Linked DNA regions of Homo sapiens. The protein of the gene in region 2 interacts with the protein of the main gene of each other region in a pairwise test. Each region holds a gene or a part of one and is shown on either strand. Other genes may lie near its edges. The genes, in order: MMACHC, CCT6B, RPE65 and LOXL4.

Region 1 (3,620 bases), on a different chromosome or scaffold from region 2:
CAGGTCTTTCCCTTCCCACGAGGCCATATTTCAGACTATCACATGGGGAGAAACCTTGGACAATACCTGGGTTTCCTAGGCAGAGGTCCCTGTGGCCTTCCGCAGTGTTTGTGTCCCCGGATACTTGAGATTAGGGAGTGGTGATGACTCTTAAAACGAGCATGCTGCCTTCAAGCATTTGTTTTAACAAAGCATATCTTGCACAGCCCTTAATCCATTTAACCCTGAGTTGACACAGCACATGTTTCAGGGAGCACAGGGTTGGGGATAAGGTTACAGATTAACAGCATCTCAAGGCAGAAGAATTTTTCTTAGTACAGAACAAAATGGAGTCTCCTCTGTCTACTTCTTTCTACACAGAGACAGTAACAATCTGATCTCTCTTTTCCCCACAGTGGTAGAATGGGAAAGATAGTAGGAACAGAAGCTACCAAATAAGAAAATGGGTATCTCTCTTCATAAATTGAAGCCCCTGGATTACAGTGTGTTGTGAGGGTGAGGGTAATGGAAAAGCTTGGGAAGGAGAATATAAAGGCTTTTTATTCAAAGTATACATACTCCTCTCTTCTGTCCTGCTCATTTAGAATCAGTCACTCCCAAAGATCTAACTTACTGAATGTAGGATGATCTCACAGATGTATTAGGGCAAAACAAAATGGTTGGGAATCACCTCTAGAGATAAAGCATGCCATTTTTTAAATAACTTTATTGAGAGAAGAGGTTAATCCATATAGTTCATATTTTTATTTATTTATTTATTTTTTGCAAGATGGAGTCTTGCTCTGTTGCCCAGGCTGGAGTGCAGTGGCGCAGTCTTGGCTCACTGCAACCTCCGCCTCCCCTGAGCCATTGCGCCCAGCCCAGACTAGCTTTCTAAGGCCTATTTCAGCTCTGATCTTGTAATTTAAAGGAAATGAAGTTATTAGAGTCTGGATTAGTGGTGTATGTTTGGGAAGACCCAAAGGTGCTAGCTTGGCTAGCACCAAGTAATCTTTTTACAGGGATTAGAGTCTGATTATATAGGGATCAGTGAGCACTGATAACCAAGAGGTACCCTTTGCAGAAGGATGTGTGGGCAGTTAGCCTGGACAGATGACACATGGCTCAGCTGACACCTGCTGAGACTGCCCCCTTGTGGGAGATGAGGTTCAGCATTAAGAAGGAGGCAGCAGTGGCAAAGTAGGCCCTTTAACTGGACTTTCCTAGGAACCTACATATAGGTTAGTCTCCTGAACCCAGGCTTTCATAACTCAGAAGCTTGCTTCTTCAGACTCTGTTGGTCTCTGCTGCTTCCCATCCCACTGGAACATGTACAGCCTCTTAAATAGGTACCATTTAAGAGCCAATGAATGCCAAACACTTTTTTTTTTTGAGACAGAGTCTTGTTTTGTCGCCCAGACTGGAGTGCAGTGGTGTGATCTCAGCTCACTGCAGCCTCCACCTCCTGGGTTCAAGTGATTCTCTTGCCTCAGCCTCCTGAGTAGCTAGGACTACAGGGGTCCACCACCACGCCCCACTATTTTTGTATAGTCCCAGCTACTCGGGAGGCTGAGGCAGGAGAATGGCATGAACCCCGGAGGTGGAGCTTGCAGTGAGCTGAGATCGCGCCACTGCACTCCAGCCTGGGCGACAATGTGAGACTGTCTCAAAAATTAGCCAGGTGTGGTGGTGGGCGCCTGTAATCCTAGCTATTTGGGAGGCTGATGCAGGAGAATCGCTTGAACCCGGGAGACCGAGGTTGCAGTGAGACGGAGGTGGAGATTGCGCCACCGTACTCCAGCCTGGGCAACAGAGGGAGACTCCATCTCAAAAAAAAAAAAAAAAAAAAAAAAAAAGAAAAATAAGAGATTAGTCCCCTTGCCTCATTTTCTTCAGGCTAGCCTGAGGCACATTCTTAGGCATTGTCAGGAAAAGGTTGAAGGCTGTGCTTTCTGTATAAATCTATGAAAAATTTCAAACTCTGCCTTTTGCTTACCAAGGGGTAGATGGCAGTTACTTAATGAAACAAGCGGGGGCTTCTGTTAAGTTCTTGATCCTTTATAAGGTTCAGGCTATCCAGTTTGGTAGAGTTAGAAGAATGCTGAGAAGGCAGACTGAGTTTGCTGTCTTCAGAGCTCTGAAGGGCTGTCAGAAACAGTTTAGTGTTAAGGGTTTACATAGTCCTATGTGTGTCGTTTATTTAGCTTTTTTTTCCCCTTAAGGATTAGAGAGTGTTGGCAAATTATTTAAACTTTGCCTTTTTTTGTGGAAAATTTAAATTTCAAGTGCTACATGAATAAATTAGGCATGATAGTATCTTAAGGCTGTGGTGATGATTATATGTTTGTAAAATGGTTAGCTCATACTAAAAGGGTGAATGATCTAAGACTGATTGCAGGGGTAGGTTTCCTGGTATCTGAGTGTTCAGGTGCAGAACTGGTTTTGTCCATAGGAGAATGGTGGTGCATACCATTGAGAAGGTTATTAATTAGTGGTGCCTTTCTCTTGCAGTGTGCCCAGCTGGCTGGAAACCTGGCAGTGATACCATCAAGCCTGATGTCCAAAAGAGCAAAGAATATTTCTCCAAGCAGAAGTGAGCGCTGGGCTGTTTTAGTGCCAGGCTGCGGTGGGCAGCCATGAGAACAAAACCTCTTCTGTATTTTTTTTTTCCATTAGTAAAACACAAGACTTCAGATTCAGCCGAATTGTGGTGTCTTACAAGGCAGGCCTTTCCTACAGGGGGTGGAGAGACCAGCCTTTCTTCCTTTGGTAGGAATGGCCTGAGTTGGCGTTGTGGGCAGGCTACTGGTTTGTATGATGTATTAGTAGAGCAACCCATTAATCTTTTGTAGTTTGTATTAAACTTGAACTGAGACCTTGATGAGTCTTTATTTTAGGAAGCATATTATTAGCTTTTGATTTTAAGAGGAATTTACTCCTTGCTTTCCCTGTTTTGGGGAAAATGAGGAGAGCTGCCTCCAAATCAGGGAATTATATTGACACAGGTAGATATAGGGAATGGAACTGAATGAACCCAAGGTGTTACATTTTGTTTCACTACACATGAGGGAGAAGAATAAGCCCTGCTATAGTGTTGGCCAGAGCACTGCGACTGACGCCACAGGCTGGGTTACCAGTTAAAGTCTCAGTGTGACTACTTGGACACCTATTTTTGTTTAGACACACTATTCAAAGGGCTGCATGGGAACCAGAAGCTTGGCCTCTTCTGATAAATGCCTGGTACCTGCTATGTAAAAGAGCTGGAGGTTTCTGTTCTTTTTGAACTGACAGAGGAAAGAGGAAGACAAGGCTGGTGGCCTTGGGTAGGGCTTTCGTAGTTGCACAGTACTGGGCAATTCTTAGCCTTCCCTTGGTTCTAGCCTTGATTAGAGATAGTCTTTTTTAGTGTCATTATGTTGCCCAGAGTGGTTCTGAATTCCTTGCCTCAGGCGGTCCTCCGCCTCAGCCTCCCAAAATGGTGGGATTACAGGTGAGCGCCACAGTGCCTGGCCAAAGCTCGTTTTGATCCTCATTCATATGTCATTGTCCTCAGAGAGGCTGTCAGCTGGGAAAAGTTATTCTCCTGGGCCCTTGAGGCCAAGGTAGATTCAGAACTGAGGATACTTCTGTGTATCATGTGA
Region 2 (7,037 bases):
TCCCTATTCTGTTCTCTCTATATATGTTCACAGTTTTCTATAATACAAAGTTTTAAAAGAGTAAATCCAAAATCAACATGGTACTCCATAATCTGGTCCCTTTTGCCTCACCTCCTCTCCCTGTGCTCCAGGCACACTGTAACAACCTAGTCACACTTCTGCCTCAGGACCCTTTCAGAGGTCATTCCTTCTGCTTAGAACCCTCTTATTCCAGATGTGCACATGGCTAGCTCCCTTGTTTCTTCAGAGACCTCTTAGCTCTCCAGGTTCTTATCAGAGTAGTCTTCCCTGTCCACTATAAAATCACACACATGATTTTTTTTCTATTTCAATTAGAAACATAAACTTCTTGGGGAAAGAAATTCTGTTCTGTTTACTCTCATTCCCATTACCTAGAGCAGTGACTTAATATATGGTGAATGAATATATTTATGTTGAATAAAAGTAAGTAATGAATTTAATAAAAGAATATCTTTAAAAAATTCTAGAACCCATATGTTGTCAAAGCTTATGTAATTTACTTTGTATCTGTTCCTAATTTATGCTTCATCTCCATTATTTCTACCATGAAGAGATCAATAGGGTAACCTGGTCTTCTAACAGCCAAAACAGAATCCACCACAACCTGAAAGAGAAATGAATGAGAACAGTTAAGTTATTTGGACTACTAAAATAAACCAAGGGCCCAAACAATCTATCACCAGACTAAGGAGATAAAAGCCTTCAGGATTCAAAACCTAGGGCAAGACCAATATGTGCCACTTTACTATGGATGCTAACAATAGCCAATGCCAACAGACACTTTAGAGTCTAAAGAAACTTCAGAGATCATTAGGTCCAAACCTTTTATTTTACAGATAAGGCAACTGAGATAAGACCTTAAGAAGTCACAGTTTTTAAATAAGATCTAACAGCTAGTAACAGGGCCGGGACTAGAATTCAGGGCTCCCTAACTGCCCAGCGACTACTCTTTCTATCATACCAAGACTATCCAAACTTTTCCACCAAAGGACACCTTAATGGAAAAGAAGGAAAGGTAATCTAAGGTAATAGCTCCAATTTGCTGGCTGTAATAACAGGAAACGTTAAAGTCTCATGTTTTATCGTGAAAAGTTTCCATGTCATCCCATAATATGTTTATCTCAATGTAAAAATAATGTTTTCCCCCAAAATTGTAAAGTAAAATTGACACTCCAGAAAGCTACGTCTCATTTATTCTGTCACATATGACCAGGGATATACAATTTAAGAAGCATAGCACAACACGTCTTATTGCTTAGCTCAGAAAATGATATAAAAATAATAAATAACTGCAGAAATTAAGGGCTAAGTTATAACTACCCTAAAATATACATAAAGCAGAAAAAACTGTATCTTAGAAAACTTTGCCTGAGGTGACATAATATTTTATTTTAGAGGCAAATAAGAAATAGGACAAAGGCCATTGGATAGTGAGAATATCACTGTTTCTGTAACTCTAAAACAGAATGGGTGCCCTAGCAGCATGAAGATTTGGGGCCATTCAAGTACTCTAACAGCAGAAAACACAGCAGAGCCTTTCTTCTGACTCTGCTCATCAAGAAATTGTCTGATCTTAATCTGATTTCCCAAGTTGTTTTTTTTTAACGGTAAGGAGAATCGATCAGAAACAACTCAAGTATTCCAGTACATTTGGCATTTGTAGTTCTCAAAGTAAATTATTAAGGTAGTATTCTGCTTTGTATGTCAATGTCTTGTGAATTTGTTTCCTAAGAATTTATCATTCTTCCTGGTAAACAAATATATTCAAGTTTCAGAAATTACAAAGCTGAAAAACAATAATGATATCAAATCATTGCCACCTGATAAAAGCCTTCCCAAAATATCCAGCCAATCTTGTCTTTATATAAAATATATATATATATATATATATATTTTTTTGAGACAAAGTTTCACTCTGTCACCCAGGCTAGAGTGCAATGGCATGATGTCAGCTCACTGCAACCTCCCCCTCCCTCCCAGAGTGATTCTCCTGCCTTAGCCTCCCAAGTAGCTGGGATTACAGGTGCCTGCTAACATGCCCAGCTAATTTTTGTATTTTGAGTACAGACAGGATTTCACCATGTTGGCCAGGCTGGTCTCAAACTCCTGACCTCAGGTCGTCTCCCCACCTCGGCCTCCTAAAGTGCTGGGATTACAAGCATGAGCCACCATGCCCAGCCTATATAACATATATTCTACCTTTAGAAATAAACAAAACACTGGCCAGATGTGGTGACTTCATGCCTGTAATCCCAGCACTTTGGAAGCCCGAGGTGGGTGTATCATTTGAGGTCAGGAGTTCAAGACAAGCTTTGGTAACATAGTGAGACCCCATCTCTACTAAAAATACAGAAATTAGCCAGGCGTGGTGGCACGCGCCTGTAATCCCAGCTACTCGGGAGGCTGATGTAGGAGAATCGTTTGAACCTGGGAGACGGGGGTTGCAGTGAGCTGAGATCATGACACTGCACTCCAGCCTGAGTGACAGAGTAAGACTCTGTCTCAAATAAATTAATAAAAGAAATAAACTAAACAAACATACATTTCCAATATGTGAATATTAATATATTAATATATCATATCACATTTCATTATATTGGTAACCTTATCTACAAGGTACACTGCTAAAACAACTATCTTGTGTGTCACCTCACATAATAAAATATGGACTGCTAGATTTAAAAAGACCAGTATACTATTCAAGAGCTTCCACAGGAGATGATCTGCAGGCAGCCAAACCTCTCCCACCTTTCAAGTCACGTTTAAAAAAAGGCCTAGTATGATACTTCTGAAAATTACAAATACTGTTCTGACCAGTCAAATCTAATCTACAGTTAGGCCTATACAATAATTGTCTGTCTTCCATATTTTATGCCCAAAAAACCACATGAAATACTTGATTATCTTACAGAAAAAGAAAAATATCACCATGCATTAGGCTATATTTGTTCTGAATGCAAAAGTTTAATAACATACCTCTGTTAAGACATCAGCCAGTTCAGCATGAACTTTAGTTTGTAATGATGTTCTAGCTACATCTAAGAGGATTTTTCTTTTCATCTCCTTTGTCACTTTAACTTCCTCCAAAACTTCAAGTGCTTTTATCTTTGCAGCTTCAAATCCTTCAGCTATTATTCTAGGGTGCAGGCCCTGTTACATCAACATAAAATTATAAATTATAAAATAAGTCACCCAATGTAAAAGTAACCAACCTGTCTGATTATTATGTTCAAAAAAAGTTACTCACATTAATGCCATGAAATATAAGTGTACATAATTTATAAAAGTCATTTTAGTGCTTCATACTTGAAATAATCTCAACCTTAACAGTAAGGCTTCAAGTCTAGTATTAAAAATTACAGAAGTCCTTTTTATTTCCAAAAATTATGACTACATTGTTGTTATGTGGTGCCCTTCTGAATGGGCACACATAAAAAGATTCCTTTCAATGCAGAGGAAAAGAACCACCACTGAATTGGGGAAAAGTGGCAGATAGAACACTGTGGTGTCTACCACTTCACCAAGTGATCAAAGTTAACATCACAATAATGAGACAGACAGGCATCACATGCCTGCTGACATGATGCATTCAGTAGAACACAACAGTTCTATGGTATTTTGGCCAACAATCTGTAACCTAAGTTTAATTGAGGAAATAGGCAAATCCACACTGAGGGACTTTCTACAAAATAAATGGCTTAAAAGTAGCAATATCATGAAGCATAAAAGGCAGCTCAGGAACTAGTCTAGCTTAAAGGATACTAAAGGAACACGACAACTGAGTGCAATGCATGAACTTAGATCTTTTTTTTCTATAAAGAGCACTATTAATATAAGTGGTGAAGTTTGAATAGAATGCAGATTAGATAACAGTAATGTATCAATGTGTTAATGTTATTATTAATTTCCTGGTTTTTATAACTATACTGCAATTATATAATTCCCTGGTTTTAAGAAATATACACTGAAATATTTAGATCATGTCTGCAACATACAGTTTAGAAAAGAATAAGTACACTGATACTAAGGAAGAGAACAGGGCAAGCAGGCAATGAGAGAAATGAAAATGCTTGAAGAATCTGGGTAAAAAGTATACAGGAATTCTTTGTAGTATGTTTGCAACTTTTCTATAGGTCTAAAATTATGAAAAAATATTTTAATAGTATTTTTTGTTCCATAAAATAATACACAAACTTTGTGAAAGCTAGCACTTGGTCTAATTCATTCCCTTACTACTTTTCTTTACATCAATCCTTAATAATCTTTAAAAGTTGACATTGAGTATTTGTGCTGGACATGACTAAGAGTTTTACACAAGTTATTTAATTCTCTAGCCACATCATGAAGTGGGTATTATTATTATTATTTTTCCTATTTCACAGATGAGAAGACCGAGGCTTAAAGGGATAATGTAATTTGCCTTAGATCACCAAGATAATAAGAAGTGAAACCAGGTTGTTTAAACCCATGAGACCTGACTTTAGAGCCTATGTTATTAACCATTTTCAAAAATGTCTTCAAGCTAGGACCCCACAATCTCTCATCCAGACTATCATGAAAACCTCTGGTCTAGACTCCCTTAAAACCATCCCCCAAATACTTAAAATGCCAACCTGACCATATCAGTCATTAGTATGTTTCTATGTTTGGTCTGTAATACCACTGGATGAAATCTAAGCTTCTTGGTTAGCATACTACATGCCCTCTGATCTGGCTCCCACTTCCCTCTCCAGCCTCTTCTCCACTACTGTTCACATCACCTGAAATTCCAGCAACACCAAAATGCTTGTAGCTTCATACAACACCATGTTGCTTGTCTTCTCTGTGACTTTGCTTATGTTGTTCCTTCTGCCTGGAAAGCCATTCTCCTCACCCCTTGCTCTTTTGTCTGGTTCACTCCTCCTCATCCTGAAGATTTAGGCCAGGCCTTACTTCCTCCAGAGAGTTCTTCCTGACTACTTCAGGCTAGTTTAGGACGTCCCTCCAGCCTCAGTGATTCCATCATATACTGTGCCCGGCTCTATCACTGCACCACCACAGAGTTTCATAATGTCTGTTAGCATCTCACCCTTGCCAAACTCCTTTCTTCCTAACCCAACCCTAATTCAGTTTGGGTTTCCCTCTCCCACTTGTGCTTTGGAGAAAGCTGATCTTATCCCCAGCTCAAGGAGTGGATCCTGATTAGTCTAAGTCAATTCCCATAAAAACTGTTACTGGCTTGGGATGGACATAATACTAAAGTTGGCCCAATCATACTAAAGAAAAGCCTCCTGAATGGCTTTATCTTGCCCTCTGCCTAATTTCCTCTGACAGTCTTTCTTCGCTCTCCTCTGTCCTCTCTCTCCTCTCTCCTCTCTTCTCTCTCTCTCTTTCTTTTAGAGACTGGGTCTCACTCTGTCACCCAGGCTGGAGTACACTGGTGCAATCATGGCTTACTGCGGCCTCCACCTCCTGGGTTCAGGCAATCCTCCTGCCTCAGCCTCCCAAGTAGCCAGGACCACATGCAGCATGCCACCAAGCCTAATTTTTTTTTATTATTTCTAAAGACAGGGTCTCACTATGTTGCCCAGGCTGGTCTCAAATTCCTGGGCTCAAGTGATCCTCCTGCCTCAGCCTCCCAAAGTGCTGGGATTACAAGCATGAGCCACTGTGCCCAGCCAGTCTTACTTTCTTTTTCTTTCCTTTTTCTTTCCATTTTTTTTTTTTTTTTTTGAGATGGAGTTTCACTCTTGTTGCCCAGGCTAGAGTATGATGGCACAATCTTGGCTCACTGCAATCTCCACCTCCTGGGTTCAAGCAATTCTCCTGCCTCAGCCTCCTGAGTAGCTGGGATCACAGGCGTGCACCAACACGCCTGGCTAATTTTGTATTTTTAGCAGAGACAGGGTTTCTCCACGTTGGTCAGGCTGGTCTCGAACTCCCGACCTCAGGTGATCCACCTGCCTCGGCCTCCCAAAGTGCTGGGATTACAGGTGTGAGCCACCGCACCTGGCCTCTTACTTTCAAGATGGAAATACTCTTAGGATGAAACAGCACTGTGAGTGGAAGAGGTAAGAGACAAAGAACCTGTGTACTTGATGACTGAATTTTGTTATCACACAACCTGACAGTCTCCCTTATCTCTCAATTTTCTATTATGGGAGATAATCATTTCCTTATTGTTCAAGTGAGTTTTAGTCAAGTTGTTTACAGCCAAAAGCATCCTAAGTTGCAAGTACTGAATTAATAGAAAATTCCCAATACTAAACGAAACACAGAGAATCATTTTGACTAGGTTACTCTTTGCTGAAATGGTCCCTGAAAGAGAGAAAACATTCAGATATGGAGAAAAGAGATACTTAATTAGAGAAAGGTAAAAATGTACATGATGTTTTCAGAGGCCAGTGAACGGAGGAGTCTGGCTGAAGTAGATGATTTATAAAGAAAATGAAACTAGAAAGGAAGGTAAATTCACAATAAGTAAAACCTTCAATAATTTTTCTCCAGTGGTTTTATAAAGGTGCATAATTTGGTTTCAACTTTATCTATGGTGTTTTCTTTCTTAATTACCCATGGATACATGGGTAATTTTTTACTTTTTTAGGTCCGTTAAATATTTCATTTTTAAAAGAGGTATATAATTCCAACGAAAGGCATTATTTTGGCCAACAAAGTTCATTATTATTTCCATTTATAATTGTCCAAGAATATCTTAATTAAAATTAACTGTCTAGACCAGGCACGGTGGCTCATGCCTGTAATCCCAGCACTCTGGGAGGCCCAGGCAGGTGGATCACCTGAGGTCAGGAGCTCAAGACCAGGCTGGCCATGATGGTGAAACCCTGTCTCTAAAAAAAATACAAACATTAGCCAGGCATGATGGCGCATGCCTGTAATCCCAGCTACTCGGGAAGCTGAAGCAGGAGAATTGATTGAACCTGGGAGGCGGAGGTTGCAGTGAGCCAAGATTCTGCCACTGCACTCCAGCCTGGGCGACACAGTGAGACTCCATCTCAAAATTAATTAATTAATTAATT
Region 3 (7,037 bases), on a different chromosome or scaffold from region 2:
GGTGGGTTTTAAGTCAGGGGAGTAGGGAAGAAACCTCAGAATGGTCAAAATGCCTTTTGCAACATCTTAAGATGCCCAAAGGATATAGTTTAGATGGGTTTGTGTCAATAGCCCTGTACAGTAATTCTTATGCACATTAAAATTTACTCACTAGTAAGTGAATGGTCCTCAAACTTTAGTGTGCATCAGAATCACATAAAGAGTTTCTTAAAATACTGATTGCAGGCTCCACTCCCAAAATTTCTCATTCAGTCTGCCCAGGACAAGGCTCAAGATTTGTATTTCTAACAGTTTCCTAGGTGATGGTCTTGGTCCAAGGACTACACTTTGAGAACTGTACTAAATAATACTAAACAAAAATCTGTATACATTCAAATAATTCCATCATCAAGGTGGTGAACAATGAACCTGGCAATAAATGAAGAATGAATGGAGAATTCTAGGGTACACTCTTTTTGCTGTAGTTCTTTTTCTATAGTACTTCTATGAGATAACAGATTTGTTTGTAGTTTTGGGAATTAAGCGCAACATATTTAGTACACTCTCATATATGTATGTATGCTATTATGCACACATACATGCTTATTTAATTTAATTTTGCCTAGCACATGAATAAGTGCTCAATAAATGTTTGCTAAGTTTGAATCCTAATTGTATATGATCAAATCCATATATATATATGTACTACATTTTTAATATTCTAGAAGAGAACTTGGACACTTGCTTTCTATATTTTCAAGTCGTCATCCTTTGATATGATGCCCTTGGGCATTAGGCCCCTTATAGGGTAGGGATGAGGGCAGTACTTCTGAAGTCTGAGAGTAATTTAACTATGCACAAAATGCTATTCTGACATTCTTATCTTTCTCACAATACAGTAACTTTCTCACAATATAGACACTTATTTTCAGAAGAGGACAGATTGGTAAACTCACCTGCTTGCAGTGGTGGGATCTTTACAATGTTGTAGGCAATTGAAAAATTTTTTCCAAAGCAATTACCAATATTGTAAACGGTTCCATCATTTTCAATGTGGGGGTGAGCAGTGGCCCCATTGACAGAGACATAGTTGCAAAGATCAACCTACGGAAGTAAAGTGAATGTCCTCCAGTTGAGAGAAGGAAGATACATTATACCTTTGTCCCTAGGTCTGAGGTCATCACTACCCCTTGAACTCTCATCCTAAGTGCACTTCTCTTTCTTCCCATCTCTCTGGATTCTACCCTCTTTCACCTTGAGTTCCCACCTTCATGCAGAACATAATGCCCCCTCATGTGTCTGAATCTGGAGTTACCTGTGACATCTCTTTATTTGATGTATACCATACAGTGCTCTGGTTAGTTACTTTTCTTTTAGCATATGCAGATTGACCTGAAACCATAAGTTTGAGTCCTCAGACTTCTTTATACTCTTATTATTGTATTAGATTTAATTGTATAAGATTGCTAACATTTAATAATTGCTGATTTCCAAAAATGTCAATTTCGTATGGTACTATGTAAATACCAACTATATGTCTTGCACATGGTACTGTATGAGTTTGGAACTGAAAGGGACTTCAAGCTTCATCTAGTATAGAAAGTCTTAATTTAAATAGACTTTAGGAGAACCATGGATCTCTTTTAATTAAATATAAACATTTCTGGCAAAAGCATACAGCATTTAATTCAATTTTATGTCTCATAAGAAGTTTAGAACTACAAATGTAACACAAATCTCTGTTTGCAGAAGGATAAATTGGGGTTCCAGAGAGATCAAGTGTCTTGTTTAAGGATAAAGAGCTAGATAAATCAGCACTAGATTTCCACCTGGGACCTACTTGGTAAAGAGTTATTGAATGAATAATTACTGGAATATATATTTATCTAACCAAAATTATTTCCAATTAATTAGGGAGATTTTTTTAAAGCATAGGACATTTTAGCAACCTTATTTAAATAATAGGCAAGATATTCATTTATTCAGTCAATCATTTATCAAATACTCTGAGCTTTCACTATGTGCCAGGCACTGTATCAGGGCTCAGGAGAGAGAAGATCTTTGCTTTCAAGAACTTCATTCTAGACCCGTGCTGTTCTATTAATACAGGACCACTAATTTTTAGATAGAACTTCAAATTCAGCTCCTCAGTCACATTAGCCACATTTCAAGTGCTTAATAACACCAGGATAGCACAGTTATAGAGCATTTCCATTATTGCAGAAAGTTCTATTGGACAGCCCTGCATTAGACCAATAAGCCGGTGTAAAGCACTGTGAGTGTGCAATGGCATCGTAGAGAAGCGCCATCTAGCCCAGACTGAGGGATGAGGCAGTTTTCCTGAGAAACATGACTCCAACTAATGTTTGAAAGGTGCGTGGAGTTAGCCAAGTGGAGCAGGATGACAGTGTATTCCAGGGAGTGGGAATCCTAATGTAAATGCATAGACTTGTGAAATAATGTGTGCTGTTTGGCCATTACTAGTCATTTAACCTGGCTGCCATGAAGGGCATGCGTAGAGGAGGCGAAATAAGAGTGGGCCAGCCACAAAGACCTTCGCTTGGACTTTATTTGGGAAGTTATGGATTCCCTAGGTGGAGTAATACTTTCATATTTATATTTTAAAAAATTGCTACTGCTGCCTTAAATAAATTGTATTTAAGGGAATCAGGCTGGAGGCAAAGGCACTGGTTAATAACAGTAAACAATCAAAAATTTCACATTTTTAAAATTACATTTTACAGTGCTAGTAACAGTGGAACCTGACTCCTAATAAAGTCTATTCTGCAGCCATACCATAGCTTCTATATTTCTAATTAAAATATCATGTAATTGTAATACAGATTCCCTATCAAAGTCAAATGAATGATTTAGAAACTCAGCTTTTGTTCTTCTCTAAAGGAGCTACACACACACTTGTATATGGTTACACACACACAACATAAACAAGAAAGAGCTATGGGGAGTGTATGTTAAGACATAGTAAATAGTCTGTTGAGAATTATAGATCAGCTTGTGCTATTGAGACTCAATGTTGAGACTATTTTTTTTCTTCTTATTTTTACCAGTACTGCATTTGTGGTTCTGGCTTTTAGTTTCACCTCTTGGTCTCCCAGCTATACTGTATCTCTTTTGCCTTCCCGTACAGCCCACACATGGCTCCCCAAATAAACATCTGAAAATATAGCCCTACTCATACTACTTCTTTGAGCAAAAACTTTCAGTAGCTTCCCATTAGCTAAACAACATATTCCAAATGTATAGCCAATTATTCAAGCTTTTAATTTCATCCTACCCTGTGTCTCAATATTCCCCTTGACATTAACTACTCTAGGCAACTAGTTCTCAACTGGGAGTGTTATTGCCCCCTAGGGGAAGATACGGAAATGTCAGGAGCGTTTTGGGTTTGTATAATGATTGAAAACATGACTGGTGTTTAGTGGATGAGGCCAGGGATGCCAAACCTCTCCCATGTGTGGGACGTCTCCATGATGATGAGTCACCCCCTGCCTAATGTCATACTAATACCTCCACTGAGAAATGCTGCAAGTCTAGTCCAAGGAGATTATTCTCCAGTTTTCATGAACACCTTCTACCTCCATGCTTTTGATCGCTTTACCCCCTCCATCTAGCATATCCTTTCTCTAAATTCACTGAAATCATCCCTCTCTTTTAACTTCCAGCCCAAAGCCTTTCCCTTTAAGCCTTCTTTCACCTGTCCCACCTTGCATTGCCAACTACTTCCAGAAGTAATTCCTTTCGTATTTATGCTTTCTTAAAAGATTTTCCTTCTTAAAAGACTCGTCATATTCTTTGTCCTATTACAGTTACATATTTGATTTCTCCACCTAGACATTAAGTCACCTGAAGACAAGAACAATGCCTTGTAAATAGGTGTATCTTAGTAAATATTGGTTCAAAATGTGTATCTAAGGACTGCTGCATTGAGATTCCCTAAGTTCTCCATAAAATTTGTCACTTCCAAATATTGCTGAAATTTTGTTCTATGCTATTTCATTCAAGATATAGCTTTATTTCTAATAAGAAGTATCTATAAGAAGGGGCAAATTAGTGCAACATACTTGCCTAGAACCATAAATAGCATGATTTTCAGTATCAGTAGCTATAATTTTTTGAGCACCCAGTATTTACCAGGTTCATGCTAGCTTATAAAAGCTATGAAAGGCAGGGACCATGTTACCCTACTCATTGATCTATCCCTTGCATCTAGCATAAATTCTGAATATGGAAAGCACTTGATAAGTATTTGTGTCATGAATGAATGAATGAATATGTTAGGCATTTTATATGGGTTCTCTCCAATCCATGTAAGTGTTTAAAATTTTAGAGATGAAGAAACAATGTTTGTCCTATGTCAAATAGCTAGTCATTGTTGACAATGCTAGGATTTGAAACTTAATGTGGCTCTCATGTTCTTTTCACCAAATTACACCAATTGCAGGAAAGCATCATAGACAGAGGCAATCAGTGCAGTCCATTTGGAGCTTGGAATGGTCATTCTGTGTGTCCTCATCAAGTTAGAATCATACATTCGCAGCATGAATAATTTATGTTGAATTAATTTTAAGTTCCAAATTCTAAATTCCTGAACATCACCTAGCACTGTGTCCCACCTGCTTAATTGTCTCCAAGGTCTCTGGATTAATCTTTGTAATAAAGTTGGTCTCTGTGCAAGCGTAGTAATCTTCCCCCACTGGGTAGACATTAACAAGGGCATTGTCAGTAACCTCTACTCCTCGAAAGTAAGAAAAAAACCTGTAGAAACAAATGAATTTTTCAGTCCAGTAATTTTCAAGCCATGAGAGAAAAAGGGCTAATATAAAATGTCTTGAGTAACATTCAGTTTGGGTTCAGTAACCTGGAAAATATATTCTTGCAGGGATCTGGGAAAGCACAGGTGCCAAATTCTGTTATGACGATCCTTTTCTCAGTCATTGCCCGTACGTAAGCATCAGTGCGGATGAACCTGAAGGACATTGAAACATAGGGAAGAGTATAGACAGGAGCAATCCGTACAGCCCATGTGGAGCTTAGAATGGCCATTCTATGTGTCCTCATCAAGTCACAATCATAAATGCACAACATGAAGAATAAAGGGTTTTATTAGCTCACTTTCTTGGGGTGACCAAGCAGGGCAGACACAATGTCCCTTGAGTTTACGTTTTTATCTTTTAAACCTCACAGATGAGGAAATTGAGGTTCAGAGGAGTTAAGTGATTGGCATATGTGGCCAAGCTGGGTTAGAATCCTAGTTGGCCAGAGCAGGACAACATGAACTTTCTATATCACACCATGCAGCCCTGGGGGAAGTTCACATAGGACCCCCACCCCCATCACCTATAACCTATCAACCTAAACTTACTGGGAAAATTCCGGACATGGTGTGCTGAATTATATTCTTCTCAATCTCCCTCTGTTACTTTTATGTTTTTCTTCAATTTTAACATTTATTTTGTTTTAAAAATTAAGTATTCTTGAATTCCATCTCTTGCCTAGACAGGTCTGCTAAACCATATCTTAGAGTAGACAGCATACTTTGCCCAGGATTTCTGATATGGAGAGCCAGTTAAAATCTGATTTTGTACTTTTAATTAATTAATTAATTAATTAATTTGAGATGGAGTCTTGCTCTGTTGCCCAGGCTGGAGTGCAGTGGCGCAATCTTGGCTCACTGCAACCTCCGCCTCCTGGGTTCAAGCTATACTCTTGCCTCAGCCTCCCAGGTAGCTGGGACTACAGGCGTGTACCACCACGCCCGGCTAATTTTTCTGTATTTTTAGTAGAGACGGGGTTTCACCATGCTAGCCAGGCTGGTCTCAAACTCCTGACCTCAAGTGATCTGGCCGCCTTGGCCTCCCAAAGTGCTGGGATTACAGATGTGAGCCACCCACACCCGGTCGCACTTTTATGAAGAAGAAAGAGTACCCTGCTCTGTCGAAGGTATAGGAAGCTTTATCTGAACTCCACAGTAAGCTCTTATGGCTACATTTCTGCTTGACATCATCCGTTTCTCTTCTATTATCATGCAAGTTGTCCTGCTTCAAGTCCCCTTTCACTTTTTCTTTACAGGTCTTTTCAAAATGCCTGAAATCTGTGGTGATCAACAAAGCCACTAATAGGCTTGAACACGAAAGCAGAAGACAAAGTATTTGTTAATACTTCATTAATGGGGGTTTCCTGGAATGATGATTTAGGGCTTCAAGGCTTTTTAGCAATAATCTCTTGTTTTCAGAAAACTTCTCTTTCTGGTAGCACTATGACATGTTTCATCCTTCACTACTTTGTGGCAGCCCCCGACCCCTTTCCCAGTGGCCTTTCCAATTTTATAAAAAGAAAAAGGAATCAAGATGGCCAATGGTTTAATAATAATAACAAGCATCACAATAGCTATTATTATGAAGTGCTTTGTGTGTGCTAGACACTGCGCTCTCATTTAATGCTTGTAATGAATATATAAGGTAGATTCTATTATTTCTCCCATTTTACTAATTATAAAACCAAGAATTGGAGGTCAACATCTTGCCAAGGTTACCCTCCTAGGCAAGTCATGTCTGTTGAATACAGGGTTTAAAGCCACTCATGTTGGACCCCAAAGCCCTAGGCTTTAGCTTCTCCTTTATTCCATGATAATGTTCCCTCGTATCCATGCAGACACACTGGCCCAGGTACATTGTGAGAAGAAAGTGGGTATATAGGTTGCCTCCTGAGTTCAGAGGTGAAAACTCACATGGGAGGAGGAGCCAAGCTAGGCCCTACTTTGAGGAGGAGGAGTGGCATGGAGTGCTGCTTTACCTTCTGTGGTATGTGACATGTCCTTCTTTAAAGTCAAACTTGTGCAGGAGGGCTTGCCCATCAAACAGGTGGTAAAATGGCTCAGATCCAACTTCAAAGAGTCCTGGCCCACATCGAAGGAGACTGCCGGTGAGCCAGAGGGGGATCCTGCCTGTGATGAAGGGGAGACAGAACATTGCTTCTTATCCCTGCCTTGGGCTAGGCTTGTCCTTGGTAAGGCAGAGTATATCAGCAGCCTGATTGGG
Region 4 (7,033 bases), on a different chromosome or scaffold from region 2:
ACTCCGAGGAGTGGAAAGTTGTGAATGCAAACCTGACCTTCCAGGTCTTTCCAAAGGTATATTTGTCAAGGTGGGAGGCTAGACCATGATTGACTTAACAATGGATTCATTTGGTTGATGGCTTTAAAATACTTGACTCATGGCATAAGGCCTCCCTTGAGTCTTGCCCTGGGCCCTGCAAATGCTGGGGTGGGCCTGTCCAGCTCCAAACTTGATTGACTTATGCGGGGTTTCTGAAGCTTTCACAGAACAGGGGAGAGGGTGACTTTGCCTATCACAAACCCAAACTTCCTAGAATTTCTTTTTAACCAGCTCTGCTCTTCCGCCAAATTTCCTCTCCTTACTGCAACCAGCTCATCTCTCCTTTCTCCCTAGAAACCGTATCCTTGACTAGCCCCTCCAGGCTTCCTAGATCCACCCTCCCCACTTCCCCAACTTCATGATCTTACAAAACCCTCTCAGCTCCCATCCTCTCCCTGAACAAAAGCCCTGTTTCTGGATAAACAGCTCTCAACAAAGGAGGAGCCTGTCCTTGGCCAAAATGGCTTGTTCTCCCCATTTGTCCTACTTTCTGTTATTACAATCTACGTTCCATCAAGCTATGTCTTTGAGTCATCTCTCTCACTAGACAGTGAGCTCCTTGAGGGCAAACACTGTGTCTGGTTTGGCTCTGTGACTCTTCCAGCACCTTCTACTTTGAGAGCATTCATGCAAGTTTTCATGGGAGATATCACGGAGGAGTTGGAATCGGAGTTAGGCCTGAAGGGTAGGTAGAATATGGAAAATGAAGTGAGTAGAGGCAACTGGAGATTCCTTCTCTCCTGTGGGCAGTAGTGAGCAATTAAAGATTCTTGAGCTAGAGCAAGACAACACTTTAGAAAGACTGACGTCAGGAACAGTGAGATGCAGGGAAAAACTGAGAGCAGTTTGGGGGCTGTTGCCACAGCACTGAGTGTTAGAGGAGGCAGGAATGCAACGGCAGGACAAATAGATGCAGGAGGCAGTACCTTAGGCACAGCAAAATAACTTACCCGAGGCCACACAATTCAGAAGCAGAGCTAGAACTCAGGTTGCCCAGTTTTAAAGCTGTACAGTTTCCTCCATACTGAGTCACAGAGGAGATGAGGCTAGAACTGAGTCCTGAAGGCTGCTGAGGAGGAAGTTTGCCAGCAGGCATGGGCACTGGGCACTCCACCAGGGTCACTACTGGGTTCAACCAGGTGCACCCTGGAGGCCACCGCTTTCTGCAGGAGATTCTGGCCTTCCCACTTGGGAGGAAAGTACAGACCCTGACTTAGGCAGGAAGGGAGGGTTGAGAAGCACCCCATGGGGAAGAGATTCATGTTAGCTCCTTTCCCTGGGAGGAGGCAGGGAGAGGTGATGCTTACACATCCAAGTCCCTGGGTACTGGCTGAGGGATCAGGGGAGCTGCGGTAACTCCAGACACCTGCATGGTGCTTCACGGCTTCCACAACATCGTAAAGTGTTATTCCTGACCACTCCACTTTCCCCCCTCTCTACCCAGTGTATCAGATCCACCTTCCAAGGCACTTCTGGGAAGGCTTCAACCCTCAGACTTCCCTGCCCAGCATCCACACAGCCCTGTGCTTTCGCCGTCATTGATCACTTGCTCCCATCTGCAGATAACAGCTGTGTGATGTTGGCCAAGTCACTTAACCCCTTTGTGTCCCAGTTTCATTGTGTAAACAGGAGATGATGAAAGCATTGTCCACCGGTTTTTCGACCCCAGCCAGCCATGATGATGATAATGGTGATGATGCCTTGTCCTGCTGGTTGATTGTGGCTCTGTCTCCCCCACCACTCTGCAAATTCCTTGAGGACAAGATAGGAAGCACCTCTGGCTTGTCTGTATCACCTTGGGGACCAGAAACTGGCACGCACCGCTAGGTCCATTTATTCAATCCGTGAGCACTTCTGGAGCACTTGCTATGTGTCAAGCTCTGTGACAGGATCTGGGTTTAGAGATAAATAAGAAGCTCGGGGGTGGGTGGGGGTGTCCAGAGTTAAGGCAGACACAGACCATTATATAAAGAGTATGGAGAGGGTCACAGGCGCTGGGCTGAGGCCGGGTGAACATAGCCAGGCAGGAGGGAAGAAGAGGGCTTTCTCAATCAAATGAAAGCTGATTGAGATGAATCCAGTGGTCCCATCTGACCCCTACAGCAATCACATTTAAGGATGAGGAGATGACAACTCAGCCGAGAAAATCCCACTGTTAGTACGCCATGGGCTGGGGCTGGGACCAGAGCCCCTCACTTCTCAGGGTTGGGGGCTCACAGCGCATGCCTTAGAGATCCCCACTTCCACTGCTTCCCAGCCTTGGCCTCTGCCCAGAGTTGTGCAAATTAAAGGACTTCCGGGCAACATCCATTCATTCCCTGGTCTCTATCCTCCGCCCGCCCCTGCGCTCCAGGGTATTTTTAGTTCTGGGCAGCCAGGCCTGGTGAGTGATTGGCAGCAGGCAGAGCCCACGTTTCCGAACCCTCTGTGTTGCTTCTGGCTCAGCATGAGAGGTGGCTGGGCCCTAGGAGAGGGCTTAGGCATACCTGGCACCCAAGCCCACAGCTGCCTCATTGTCCCTGGGGGAGGAGCTGGGCTGCTGCCACTGACCCGAGGCTGGGAGCATTCTTTCCTGCTGATTCATCATGGGGAATGTTTTGGGCCCAGCTGGGGTGGGGCAGGGGCACTGGGGGGACATCTTGGACACGGGCAGCCAGGAGTGGATGGCAGGTCCCTGGCAGCAGGGTCATTAAGACCTGGCTGTCACCCAGGATCGAAAAGGTCCATCTTGACATCCTAGCTCTATCACACTCTGCCTGTCCAGGCTTATTCTTACTTGCACATCTGCCTCCCCCACCAGACTGGGAAGGCCCCCTCCAGCGTCTAGCACTCCAGCACCCTGTCTAGCATGTAGGAGAAAATCAATAAAGGCTTGTGGGATGAATGAACCTTTGGAAGGACGTTTAGGCAAGGTGGGGGCAAGAGGGGGAACCAGGTTGGGCAGCTGTGGGCCTAGGGAGGAAACCGGGAGGCTGGAACCCTCTGCCCATTTTACAGATGGGGCCAGTGAGGCTAAGGGCAGGACCAGGTCTAGGGGAAAGAAACTGGGGGCTTGGACTGGGGTTCAGGCACCTAGGTGCTCAGTTCAGCTGATGGGACTCCTCTCTGTCAGCCATGTCCACATTTCTTTAATTCTACAGTCCCTGCTCCCTGCACTAACACCCTCCTCCCGTGAGTCTGACAAGGGCCAGGACTGCATCATTCAGCTCTGTGAAGGGGTTCTCCCATTCACTGTGTATTGCCTGGAGGAGCAAGTTATGTCGCCTGGGGCTCAGTGTTCCCAGCTGCACAATGGGCAGCGCAGAGTTTCACACGGAGGGCGGGGGGGGGGGGGGGGGCGGTATTCAGTAAACTCTGGGTGACTCGCCTGTTCCTGCAGGAGAGCACCGCTGCACCGCGCCACCTCGACCTCTCTGAACTGAGCCCCGGCCTCCCAGAAAGGGCGTCTACATTGTCCTAAGTGACCGAGCTCGTGAGATTCGGCCCCTGTGACAGCCGGGCGCTCCCGTGCGAAGGGTGCTGTGCCGGGGGCCCTGGCACCCACCAGGACTCACAGACTGGGACTCTAGGTGGGCGTCATTACCTTGTTCTGCAAAAGAGGAAACTGCCTGGGAGAGGGACTCCCGAGGCCGCCGCGGCCCTCCCTGCAAAACAGCCGCGGGCCCAGCGCCGCCCTTTCCCGAGAGCTCCGCTCCCCGCGACCCCCCGCCGCCCCCCCGCTCCCCCCGCCCCCCGGGACTTCCCGGCCCCGCCGGCTGCGGCTGGGCGCCCCCGCCACCTGGCCTGTGTCCCGACGGGGGGCGCCGCGCGGAAGGCCGGGCGGGGCGCCCGCGGACTCCAGGCCCGCCCGGGGCGGGGCCTGCGGGGCCTCCTCCGCGGCCAGCTCGGGGCTGGGGGGCCGCGGGCGGGAGGCGGATAAAAAGGCCCCAGGGCGCCCGGGGAGGGAGCCCGTTAGCGCTGCTCCGCCGCGGCGCCCGCCCAGCCCCGGACTGTCCGCGCTCCATCTGGTGAGCCCCCGCCTGGCCGCGCGTCTGCCTCTTGGTCTGCCTCTTGCTGTCCCATCTGTCCTTCTGTCTCTCTGTGAGTCTGCAGGCCTCTGAGGGTTCCTGGAGACTGGGCCTAGGGTGCATGGGGGATCCCTTGGACCCTCAGCCCGGCCCTCCAGTCGCTCACCAACCTGCTTCCAACTGGACAAGTGACCACGCTGGGGAGCTTGGCCCAAGGCCCGCCCTGAGTGGTGCGCCCAGGCCTCAGGGGTGCCTGCGTGTCTTGTTTGTGTACACGCCGTGTGTAACCATTGCTCTGCCTTCTTCCAGGGAGGAGACAGGGAAGGGGCAAGGCGGGTTCAGATGTCACACTTACGACTTGGGGGACAACGAACCAGGGCTGATCTGGGCTCTCCAACTATCCAGACCGGAGCTGATTATGTTGGGGGGTCGGCGTGTGACAGAAACACCGAAGGGAAGGGGGCAGAAGACTTCAAGCCCCCTCTTTCCTAGCCTGGACAGGTACAGCTCAGAGACCATTTGTTGGCACTGCTTCAGGTCCACAGAGTCAGTAACCCCGGGGAGGCTACAGGGCTGAGAGGAGGCTGCTGAGAAGAGCTGCCCAACGGCAGAGAAGGGATGAGCCATCCTAAAGTTGCTGCACCCTCAGGACAGCACCCCCCATGCTCTCTCTTGAATACTCGGGCATTTGCTGTCTTCAGCCCTCCCTACCTGCGCTAGGTCAGGCCAGGTCCCAGCATCTCCTGGCACACCTGGAGCAGGTGCCTCTGTGCCTCAAGCTGGCAAGATCTTGGATCTGTCACTCGGCATTCAGCGAAGAGCACCCTGCCCAGTGCCCTCACACCACGGCCTGGGTCATAAATCCACCAGAACAGGGTGGAATTTCAGTCGGCTCCCGGCCTTCCTTTCCTCCTCCCCCTCTTCCAACATCCATTCTTGGTGGTTTTGAGAGTCCGGCGTCTAGCCAGGCTGCTTGGGTTTGAATCCTGGCTGGGCAAGTTACTTGACTTCCCTGGACCTTACCTTCTCATCTGTAAAATGGAGATAAGTATTTAATCCGTATTTTAAAATGTATAGTTATTATCCTCACTTCCCTCCCCTCCTCTTTCCCTTCCACCTTCCTTCCCTCTTCTGTCCCCTTCTCCTTTATTTGGGAAAGTAACGGCCACTTTCGAGGCCGCTTCCTTCTCTGAGGGAGGATGCACAGCTTGGTCCTCTGTGCTCAGTGCTAGGGGAACAGACAGGTGGAGTCTGGTTGTGGGGTCAGGAAGCAAACACACAATGTGCTTTGTGGAAGGCTTTGTGGGAGGGCTTAATGGAGGGGGTGGCATTTGAGCTGGCCTTGTGGGATGTGTAGGAGTTTAACAGTCTTAGATAGAGGGAAAGGAACAGTGAGAGCAAAGGCTTGGAGGCTGGGAGACGAAGGCTATAGTCTGGTGTGAGCAAAAGCTCTCGGGGGCCTATAGTGGGCAGGAAGGCCAATAAGAGGGACTCTCCCTGCATCTAACTCTTGGTTCCCGCTGCCGTCCCCCCACCTTCCAGCAGCGTTCATGGAAGGGAGCTTCCCTGGCCCAGACCCCAGGGTCCTACAGCAGAAGCCCTCCCATGCCCTCAGGTTGGTCCCTTGGAGAGGAAGGAGCTGCTGGCCTGGGACTGTCCACAGCCTGTAACAAGACCTCCTCAGTGTGTCAGGGACTTCAGCCAGGAGCCAAACAGCAGACCTGCCCAGCCTACCCTGGGCCCCATCAGAGCATGTCGGATAGGGGGGCTGTCTAGTGCCACCCCCTCATTTTACAGGTTTTTCAGCTGAGACTCAGAGAAAGGAAAATATTTGACTCCAGACACAATTTGGCGGCAGAGATAGAAGCATTCCAACTCCTGGGGGTGGTAGAGAAGGTGTGGTTGTCACTCAGCCCAGACCCATGTGACCACTGGGTCCTAATAGCTGAGGGACCTGAGGCCGATCTGTCCCATCCTTTCTTGCCATCTGGGGAGTGGTTTGGCTCAGTCCCTGGCTGTCTACCTCCTACTCCAGGGAGCACGGAGGAGGGAATGGGAAACAATGGAGAGCACTCTGCTCATGGGACAGCCAGCTGGGAGCCCCCACAAGCCTCTGAGTGACATGCAGAAGACAGTGTTTCAGTCTGGAAAGGAAGCGTGGGAGGGGTCAGAGGGGGAGAGCTGCAGAGGTGAGAATGGGAAGGCAGCCCCTGCACAGCCTCAGGGAGTGGAGAGGGGAGCATCTAGGCTCTGCAGTGTGGGTGGAGGGAAAAGGGGCAAATCTAGAGAAGGCTGCAAAGAGGAGTACCAAGGACTTGCAGTTGAGATCGGACGTGGCCTCCATTTCCTTCTTTGTACAGAGAGGAGGTGGGACCAATCTAGACCAACGGTTCTATCGTCGCTGTCACAGTAGCTGTTAATAATAGTTCATTGTTGGCCGATGTAGTGGCTCACGCTGGTAATCCCGTCACTTTGGGAGGCCAAGGCGGGTGGATCACCTGAGGTCAGGAGTTCAAGAACTGATGTGGTGAAACCCTGTCTCTACTAAAAATACAGATAAATTAGCTGGGCATGTTGGCGCATGCCTGTAATCCCAGCTACTTGGGAGGCTAAGGCAAGATAATCACTTGAACCCTGGAGGCGGAGGTTGCAGTGAGTCGAGTTTGTGCCATTGCACTCCAGCCTGGGTGACAAGAGCAAAAATCTGTCTCAAAAATAATAATAATAATAATAATAATAATAATAATAATAATAATAATAGTTCATTGTTACTGAAGGCTTGCTCTTCTAAGGATTTAATGTTTCTTCACTTAATCTTTACAAAAATCCTATGAGGTAGTTACTATTATTATCCCCACTTTACAGAGGGAGACACTGAGGCAGGGAGAAACTAAATCGCTGGCCCAAGATCACTTCCAAATGAACTGGTGGAGGCAGGATTCGAA

What was found.
Region 1: the proteins of CCT6B (region 2) and MMACHC interact in binary tests that used the Homo sapiens proteins (3 or more experiments, as listed by UniProt).
Region 3: the proteins of CCT6B (region 2) and RPE65 interact in binary tests that used the Homo sapiens proteins (3 or more experiments, as listed by UniProt).
Region 4: the proteins of CCT6B (region 2) and LOXL4 interact in binary tests that used the Homo sapiens proteins (3 or more experiments, as listed by UniProt).

What each region holds. Positions count from the first base shown.
Region 1 is NC_000001.11:45,510,285-45,513,904, reverse strand, and holds the end of MMACHC (cyanocobalamin reductase / alkylcobalamin dealkylase), read right to left. Parts: 3' UTR 2,577-3,620; coding exon of another isoform or gene 2,491-2,576; 3' UTR 523-2,490; downstream 1-522. Other genes in the region: PRDX1 (peroxiredoxin-1), read left to right, coding at 2,491-2,576. UniProt on the Homo sapiens protein: Cobalamin (vitamin B12) cytosolic chaperone that catalyzes the reductive decyanation of cyanocob(III)alamin (cyanocobalamin, CNCbl) to yield cob(II)alamin and cyanide, using FAD or FMN as cofactors and NADPH as cosubstrate.
Region 2 is NC_000017.11:34,951,429-34,958,465, forward strand, and holds part of CCT6B (T-complex protein 1 subunit zeta-2), read right to left. Parts: intron 3,172-7,037; coding exon 2,998-3,171; intron 626-2,997; coding exon 522-625; intron 1-521. UniProt on the Homo sapiens protein: Component of the chaperonin-containing T-complex (TRiC), a molecular chaperone complex that assists the folding of proteins upon ATP hydrolysis.
Region 3 is NC_000001.11:68,439,918-68,446,954, forward strand, and holds part of RPE65 (retinoid isomerohydrolase), read right to left. Parts: intron 6,944-7,037; coding exon 6,793-6,943; intron 4,967-6,792; coding exon 4,859-4,966; intron 4,756-4,858; coding exon 4,614-4,755; coding exon of another isoform or gene 4,593-4,613; exon of another isoform or gene 2,531-4,592; intron 1,084-2,530; coding exon 936-1,083; intron 1-935.
Region 4 is NC_000010.11:98,265,187-98,272,219, reverse strand, and holds the start of LOXL4 (lysyl oxidase homolog 4 precursor), read left to right. Parts: upstream 1-4,025; 5' UTR 4,026-4,088; intron 4,089-4,397; exon of another isoform or gene 4,398-4,589; intron 4,590-6,843; exon of another isoform or gene 6,844-7,033. UniProt on the Homo sapiens protein: Catalyzes the oxidative deamination of lysine and hydroxylysine residues in collagen and elastin, resulting in the formation of covalent cross-linkages, and the stabilization of collagen and elastin fibers.